Linked DNA regions of Homo sapiens: region 1 is linked to region 2. The links come from fine-mapping of genetic effects on gene expression. A gene starts in region 2. The other region holds a variant in brackets. All regions are shown on one strand. Distances are between the middles of the regions.

Evidence for each region. PIP is the estimated chance that this variant, and not a neighbour inherited with it, causes the effect.
Region 1: its variant is fine-mapped to the expression of PENK in fibroblasts (GTEx, PIP above 0.99).

What each region holds. Positions count from the first base shown.
Region 1 is chr8:56,470,073-56,474,464 of GRCh38, reverse strand. The region is part of intron 1 of PENK-AS1 (PENK antisense RNA 1); the gene reads right to left. Among named protein-coding and RNA genes, the nearest start is that of PENK, 26 kb to the right of the region's middle. The variant C/GCCC (reference allele first, on the strand shown) is at 2,437.
Region 2 is chr8:56,444,162-56,448,553 of GRCh38, reverse strand. PENK (proenkephalin) reads left to right here and starts at 1,913. Exons shown (of 4, transcript NM_001135690.3): 1 at 1,913-1,985; 2 at 2,073-2,128; 3 at 2,598-2,738. The coding sequence starts at 2,601. PENK-AS1 (PENK antisense RNA 1) reads right to left here and starts at 2,747. Exons shown (of 4, transcript NR_125813.1): 1 at 2,054-2,747. RefSeq lists an enhancer at 2,251-3,142.

The sequences.
Region 1 (4,392 bases), 26 kb before region 2:
ATGGAAAATATGCCAATATTTATTATGGACATGCATCTAGGTAGTGGGTATGTGTTTGTTTTATTATTCTGTTTTCTACGAGTATTATTTGCATAAGAAAATGAATATGAGTGGACAAAAGAGGCATTTAAATTTATCACTATTCCATTGGCTGTTGTTTAAGGGTCAGGTTTGTATCTCATTTCCATGCACTTAGAATCCATCATTTAGTTCACAGAGGAACAAGCTATAATAATTAAAAATTCATGTCATTCTTCTACCACAGCAGTCTTGATAATACTTAAACATTCGAGTCACTCTTCCACCACAGCTGTCTCTGCACAGAGGCTTCTCCTATCCTTGCTGGCTCCATTGCTTCTTACATATATAAAATGTTTCATTTGCACCACACAAACTACCAAAACTATAGTTTAACTTTTAGAGAGGGCAGAGGTATTTTTTTCAGAGAACCCCAGTCTTAAACTACATTTTCTCACTCGTTTGGCAGTTCAGCTTACTGAGAAACAATCTCATCCGTGCTTGTTCATTATACTTTGTTAAGTATCTGCTGTGCAATAATTGTGGGGGTTTTTGGTGTATGGGAGAAAATCTAACCTTGACAACAGTAGCCCCTCACTCCCTGATTTGCCCCAGCAAGTAGGAAAGCCAACCTGGCTACCAATTAATCTACTGACTCCATAGATATTTACTGAGAACCCACTCTTTCCCAGGCACAAAAAAATAAGTTTAGTATCAAATACTACAACCAAAATACTATGAAGTGAGCGTGAAGTGGAGACCACCATTGGGGTTCAACGGCGGCTTCTCCTATCCTTGCTGGCTCTGGACCTCTCAGGGCTGAGTGGTAGTCTGGTCCATGCAGATGAAGGCAGGGAAGCAGAAGGGAAATGAGGGTTAATAGTGAAGCTAGACATTGACATGTCAGCCCCATGCTAAATGCAGTGTTCATAGCTAAACGCAGATTTTTAGAACTGCAAGGGTCCTTGCTCATTTTATAAATGAGTAAACTGAGTCCAAAGAGATTAAGTCCAAAGAGATTAAGTCCTTTCTCTAGATTTTATGGTCCTTCTAGATCAGTCACTTCATAAAGCTTTTAGAGCCAGCAATAGAATGCAAGGCTCCAAGTAGATTAGCATGTGTCCAGCAAGCCACGTGGACCAGAGGGCAGGAGCTGCTGGAGCCATGCCCCTCCCAGGGCCCCTGCGATCCGGCCTCCATCTGTGCATCCAAACGCCTGGGCAGAAGCCAGTTCTTATTCCCAAAATAAGCTGGAAATCTCAATTTTTTTTAATATTTTATTTTATTTTATTTTTTTGAGATCAAGTCTCACCCTGTCAGCCAGGCTGGAGTGCAGTGGCACCATCTCGGCTCACTGCAACCTCCGCCTCCCAGGTTCAAGCAATTCTCCTGCCCCAGCCTCCCAAGTAGCTGGGATTACAGGCATGCGTCGCCATGCCCAGCTAATTTTTTGTATCTTTAGTAGAGATGGGGTTTCGCCATGTTGGCCAGGCTGGTCTTGAACTCCTGACCTCAGGTGATCTGTCCACCTCGGCCTCCCAAAGTGCTGGGATTACAGGCATGAGCCACTGCGCCAGGCCGAAAATCTCAATTTTTATGGAAGATCTCTTATTCTTAAATGATGGAAGCCAATTCAAAACTTTAAAACATACTATATGAGCCATGTGTGGGCCGAGTTCCAAGCACTGGTCACTATTTCACAATATCTGCTGTAAAGAACTGGGTCTGAGGCCTTATCCTGGCTAGACTTTATGGCTCCTGAATGCAGGAAAAGAAAACAAGTTACGTTCAAAGCTGCTCAATGTTTGAGACATCTGAAATTTATTTTGATGTAAAGCAGAAGTCATAAAACTGATTCATTTGTACCTTTGAAGATTACAAAGAATAAAATTGCCCACCTGGCCCATCCAGAAAGACCATAATTATCAGGGATCTATCATCAGGTCCTGCGGTGGGAAGGAGAGAGGACCAGGCTACACTCAGTGATCCCAATGCACTCGCACCAGAATGCTTCTTCATCCTCCCATATCCCCTCTGCCTCATCCTCCCCACAGCCTTATTCTCCCAGCTCTTTCCTCTCTTCTCTTGGTCACTGAGAAGTAGTCAGAATGGAGATTGATAACTGAGGGCAGTGTAGAAAAAGTCTGGGAGCTTAAGCACGTCCAGGCATAATTCTGCTTATTAACAGAAACAAACATTTACAGAGTCTTTAGTATGTTTCTCACCCTATTGTAAGCACTTTCCATTTTAATCCTTAGAATTCCATGAGTGAGGTACTACGATGATGATCCCTTTGTAGAGGAGGCTTGGAGAGGTTACTACCTTAGCCAAGGCCACAAGTAGCAGAGCTAGGACCAGGGACCAGATGGTTCCAATCCGAAGCCTCAGAGCCCCAAAGCGGAGGGCTCCACCACCACC[C/GCCC]CCCCATTGTCCTGTTCACGCGATTTCATCCTGTTCACTTCTATTCTCACGACACATCACATCATTCAGATTTCTTAACCCAAAACAGAGTAAACATGAAACAAGTAAAAGATCGTGTACATGTGGGAATGTTTTTAAAAAGAAACATTTTAAACTGATATTTAGAGTAGTCTGTCTTGTCTTTTCATTATAATAACAGTAAAGTCTGTCCTGCAGCAATGAATAAGCGGCTTCTGGGAAGGACACAGAGATGAGCTCATTCCTGGGACTTGCACTTTCTTTTTAAGAACTTCAAGAGCGGACTTGGAGGAAAAGACCTCTGCTCTCTAAAATACCACTGCTTGATAGAGAGCAGTGTTTTCCCTGTATTTTAAATGAAAAGGAAGGCTCACATCCATGTGTATATGCATAGTATGGCATGTGTGTGGAATGGTACATATGTGGTGTAGTGGGGGGAGGATGTGTATGTGTGTATGAGTGTGGTGTGTGTGCATGTGTGGCATGTGCATGTGTGGGGTAAGTGTATGTGTGATGTGTATGTGGTGAGTATGTGTGATGTGTGTGTATGGTGTGTGTCCCTTTGTGTATGGTGTGATATGTGTGTGGTTTAGCATGTGTGTGTGTACATGTGTGGTGTGTGCATGTGTGGGCTGTGTGTGTGTGTGGTGTGTATTTGGGGTGTGGTATGTGAGGTGTAGAGGGTATGATATGAGATGTATTTAGGGGAGTGTACATGTATGATGCATGTGTATCTGTATGTGTGAGTTTTTTGTGTGTGTGTGACAGAGTTTCACTCTTGTTGCCCAGGCTGAAGTGCAATGGCACGATCTCAGCTCACTGCAACCTCTGCCTCCCAGGTTCAAGCTATTGTCCTGCCTCAGCCTCCCGAGTAGCTGGGATTACAGGCATGCACCACCATGCCCGGCTAACACTGTATTTTCAGTGGAGATGGGGTTTCTCTATGTTGGTCAGGCTGGTCTCAAACTCCTGACCTCAGGTGATCCACCCACCTCAGCCTCCCAAAGTGCTGGGATTACAGGTGTGAGCCACCACGTGTGGCCTGTATGTGTGACTTTTAAAGTTACACTCAGGACAATCAATTTAGCCACGTGATCTAAGGTCCTGAGATTAAGCCATTAGTCGAGGCCACATCCATTTGTGTGTTTTCTTCCTGCAGACAATCCTTTCCTAAGTACTATCTAATGGTTCGACTGCATGAGAATCATATGGGGGACCTGTCACAGTGCATAACCCTGGGGCCCCTCCAGGTCTCAGCATCAGAGCCCCTGGGCATGGGCTGAAGAATCTGCCCATTTATCTAACAGGTGTCCCAGTCAATGTCAATGCACTCTTGTAGGAAAGCCACTGCTATAAGCTATGGTTATATAGACGAATGTCCCATTCAAGTATTTCAATTGCAGATACTCCAGATAAAAGGTAAAAAATAATTCGGGCATAGTCAATTTTTCTCTTACTTTTCTGGCATTAACTAAATAAGAGGGGGGAAATAATCTTATCCCTTATTCCCATCACACACACAGACATACACACACTCAGATGCACACAAACATTTGCACACATATGCACAGAAAGGCAAGCCCATTTATGTTCTCAGCTTCTAAATTCTTTTTTTTTTTTTTTTTTAATTGAGACAGGGTCTCGCTGTCTCACATAGCCTGGATCTCAGTGGTGTAAACACAGTTCACTGCAGCCCGAACTCCTGGGCTCAAGCAGTCCTCTTGCCTCAGCCTCCCACAATGCCGGGACTACAGGCATGAGCCACCACGCCCGGCCTGAATTCGTTTTTATTTGACAAGCACATGAAGCCTTATCAGACGGAGGCCTCAATCCTTTGGCTGGGGTTTATAAGCAGGTAGCGCTAGACCTTCCCATTCTACATAAGCTGATGGGCACGGTAATAGCTGGGGGTTTTCTCACAAGTCAAAGACAAATTGT
Region 2 (4,392 bases):
GTGCTCAGCTATAGCAAGTTTCCTTTAATTTTAGGTAGAATTTGTTCATGCAATACTTTCGCACTGAGTACTGCAGTGGAGTCAGCTTCCTTTCCAAAGCCCAGGCAACAAGGAAAAATCTGAAGTAAAGACAAAAGCTCTCCTTTGCCTTGGGGAGAGAGTAAGGAGCTAGTAAGGGGCCCCATGATGAAAAGAACCTAAAGCGGGAAACATTGTGTTTTCCTGCTCAGAGGGTAATGCTGGCTCCCTAGGGCTATGTCCGGGGTTCTCCAGCCCCACTCCAGGGCTCTGCTTTCCCGACCTTGCTACCGTGATGCCCCGGCCGGGAGGCAGGCGGTGCTCGGGTGCAGCTTCGGGGCTAATCCGAGGGCTGCGTGTCAAGCCCGCACATTGAGGCCTGCGGAGAACTGAGACCCCAGTCCCCGCAAGCCCAGCCTACGCAGGAGAGCGCTGCCCTCTAGCGACTATAATGGGACATGCAGCGCGGCCGGAGCCCCGCGGGAGCAGCGCCGCTGCAGGTCCTAGCGACTGTAGAAATCAGCCCTTTGCAGAGGGCGCAGAGGGCCTGGAAACCTCTGGGACCTTTTCCCAGGAACTGTTTATGGTTTCCCCCTAGGTCTAGGAGACATAGATGCATAGGTGGATTGGATACATCGATGGTAGCTATAAGGTAAGCAGACAATGGTCACAGATGGAAAGGTGGACGGACGGATGACGGATGGTTAGAAGATGTTTTGAGGGCTTGCTATAGTGCCAGGCACAAGGCTAAGAGATTTCGTCCACTATTTCATTTGATTCTCTCCAGAACCTTATGAATGGCATATTACCTCTGTTCCTATTTTTCAAATAGGGAAACTGAGGCCTCAGGCAATGTAAGCAGCTTGCCGCTTAGCAATCTTTTGCAGAGCCAGGAAGCGGGAAAGCGTGTCTTAATGGACAGTACCAGCCTCCACAGTGTGCCCTCGGCCCCCTCCCGGTGGAGAAGAGGTTCCAAGCCCCGGCGTCCCGGGTAGGGTGTCCCTCATCCCTCCCTCCCCACCACACTCCTGGCGCGCTGACATTACACCCGCCCCGGCACCCCCCTCTCACTGATCCAACACCCCCGGACACCCTGGACAGCGCTCTCAAGGCAGTAGGTCTTCGACTTGGGAGCCCCGGGGAGCTGGTTAAACACGGATCCTCTCCCACAGTGGCTGAAAAGCGCGCAGTCCCGGAACCTGAGGGTTTACCTGCTTCTACGCTTGGCCAAGGGTCTCTAACTGGAAAGGTGAAAATTCTGTCCTGAGATTTTAAGATTCCCAGAAACTTTCAATCGTTCAGTTCCTGTAACCATTAATTGAGCGCCTAAACTGCGCACCTTGACGCTGTTAGATGCTGCAGTAAGGAACTCGGAGTCAAGTGTGGGGGACAGGTTGGTCAATAAATGACGACATTCCGGACGGCTGTGCTTGGTGCCCACGGGGACCCGCGAGGGGGCCCAGGGAGGAGGCGGGAAAGGGGCAGGTTCACCGGCCCGCTGGGTCTCCAGCACATTCCAGAAGTCTAAGCCAGTCCATCTATCCTTCCAAACGCCCCCACCTCGCTTCCCTCCCTGGAGCCCGCATCCCACGGTGCAATTTCAGTGACTTTATGCGGAGAAACTTGATCCTATCTCACTCTCCCCAAACTTCCTAACTGCCTTGGGTTTGTCACCTGGCCGTGTGGGGAGCCACCGAGCGCCCCCTGTGGCCCCCACCCGAGCTCGGCGGGGGGAGCGGCGCGCGGGTGCTGGGGGACCGACCCCTCCCGCGAAGGCGTCGGCGCGGGGCTGGCGTAGGGCCTGCGTCAGCTGCAGCCCGCCGGCGATTGGGGCGCGCGCGCCTCCTTCGGTTTGGGGCTAATTATAAAGTGGCTCCAGCAGCCGTTAAGCCCCGGGACGGCGAGGCAGGCGCTCAGAGCCCCGCAGCCTGGCCCGTGACCCCGCAGAGACGCTGAGGACCGCGACGGTGAGGCCCTACGTCCGCCAGCACACCCGGGCCCGCTTCTCCCCGACGCCCGCCCTCCTCACACTTGCCTTCTTCTCTTCCCTCTAGAGTCGTGTCTGAACCCGGCTTTTCCAATTGGCCTGCTCCATCCGAACAGCGTCAACGTGAGTGAATTTGCCCGAAGCTTGTCTTTGCTGAGCGGGTTTGGGGACGTCTGCCCGCCCTCTTTCCCTTCACATTTCATTGCATGGGTTCCCCAACAGCGTTCCCTGGTTCTTCTTTGTGACCCCAGTCAATGTCCTGCCTCCCCCGGCTCCCGCTCTCTCGCCCCTGGTCTGCGGCGTTCTCTCCGGAATCTTGCCCTGGGCCGCGGACGCCCAGGAAAAGAGCCGGGTGCCCCAGGCAGCCTCGCGTTGGGGGCGACCGCGCCATCCCGGGAACCGCGAGGCGATCTGAGTCGCCTCCACGTCTACCTAAAAGCTGTCGGCCGGGAGGGCGGGGCCCCAGAAAGGAGCATTCCTGCGGGCTTTTGCTCGACGATCCCCTGCTGAGGCTGTCGCGGCGAGGGTCCTGCCGAGGGACCCCGTTCTGCGCCCAGGCAGGCTCGAAGCACGCGTCCCTCTCTCCTCGCAGTCCATGGCGCGGTTCCTGACACTTTGCACTTGGCTGCTGTTGCTCGGCCCCGGGCTCCTGGCGACCGTGCGGGCCGAATGCAGCCAGGATTGCGCGACGTGCAGCTACCGCCTAGTGCGCCCGGCCGACATCAACTTCCTGGTGAGTGTTGCGCGCGGCGAGTGTTGCGCACCTTGTGAGACAGAGTTTCCGCAACAGTACGCGGACTGCCTCCGGCCCACCGCGCGGCGCGTATGGCGGTTCGCACCGGGTCGGAGCCGCAGCGGCGCGAGCCCGTGGTGACCTGGGTGTCTCAGCTGTTCCTGGAACACTGACTGAAGTCCTGCCCTGGCTCTTAGCTTCGGGGATCCGCGACTATCTGGGGACCGGTAAGGGTAGCGGTGTCGCCGCACAAACCAAGTTTGTTTTAACCCTGGGAATTCGGGAACCCCGAGAAGTCCTCTGTTCAGCACCTCGGATAGCACTGGGTTCTCTCCTGGGCTGTCAGAAGGAAGATGGCTGTCACCACAACTCCTAACATATCCCAGCTAAGGGCCCCTCCACACGCAGTCATCTTCCCATCTTTCCCACAAATAATGTAATTTTTTGTTAGTGACATTTCGGTGCCTTTCTTTAGATTTATGTTCCCCAGCTCTCTTAACCTCAGGTCCCTCATTCCCTACCCTCACCTGTAAATAGGAGAGAGCAAAGGGATGGAAAAGGGGTACGGGGAGAGGAAGGCGAAATAACCGTAGACAGGAAAGAGTTCAAACTGTCTCACTAGCCAGTGATGCTGGAATTCAACTTCTGTTTCAACTGCCCTTTGTAATAGTAACTAAAACAACAGTTTAATTTGGCTATGAGAAAGGAACAAGAGAAGTGGCCAGTGTCCAATGGGTGACAACAGTCCAAAGATACACTGCACTACAGGGGGTTGGGGAAAGAAAAAGCTGAGGACAAAATAACTTTCATTCTGATCATGGTTCCCCATGGGCTGTCGAATCACCTCTGGTGCTCTACTGAGTCTGAATCTCCAACCTCGAGACTCAGGTAGCTTCACTTTTACCAGCTCCCCTGACAATTCCTTTGCATTGCTTTTGAAATTTGTTGAAATTTTATGGTGACTTAAAAAGCTCATAGAGAATAATGTATTCATCCAAGCTGCTTTGGGTTCCACCTGGAATTGAGGAAATTTTACCTTATGTAGATGTTTGAAATGGGGAGAAAACCAAGGAACAGTTTCCAAATATCTGTGGTATATATTTCAGGTTAAATGTTTGTTTCTTTGACCTGTGCTAACTTGGCATTAAAGAGAAGACACATAGGAAGGTTGTATATTTAAACTATGAGAAAAATGTTTCATCTTCAATAGGAGAAACAATCCCCTTCACCCATCTTTCTTCTTTCTCCTGTAGTCATGAGCTTTTAACCTATGCCTAAAAATTGAGCCAGTGCTACAAATATAAGGATAGATCTTGTGGATAAAGAATTTTAGACACAGAAGGAGGAAGAAAAATCCAAAACATGCCACATAGAAGACTCCACTTTCTGACCCCATAATTCCCTGTGCCCAGTCACACATATTTTGAGCTTTGCCTGCTCAACATGTCAGGGGCTCAGCCCCCTCCCCTAGCTTTCTCTGCCATCTGAATAAAGGTTATATGGATTCTAGTCTAATTTTTCTAATCACACAGACTGACCCCAAAGTAGTATCATATTTACTTAAATTATGTGAGTTAGCGAATTAATATGACTGACTTTTAATCATGCCTATTCAAATGGGTTTTTTTCATACTTAATCTATTTGATTCACCAA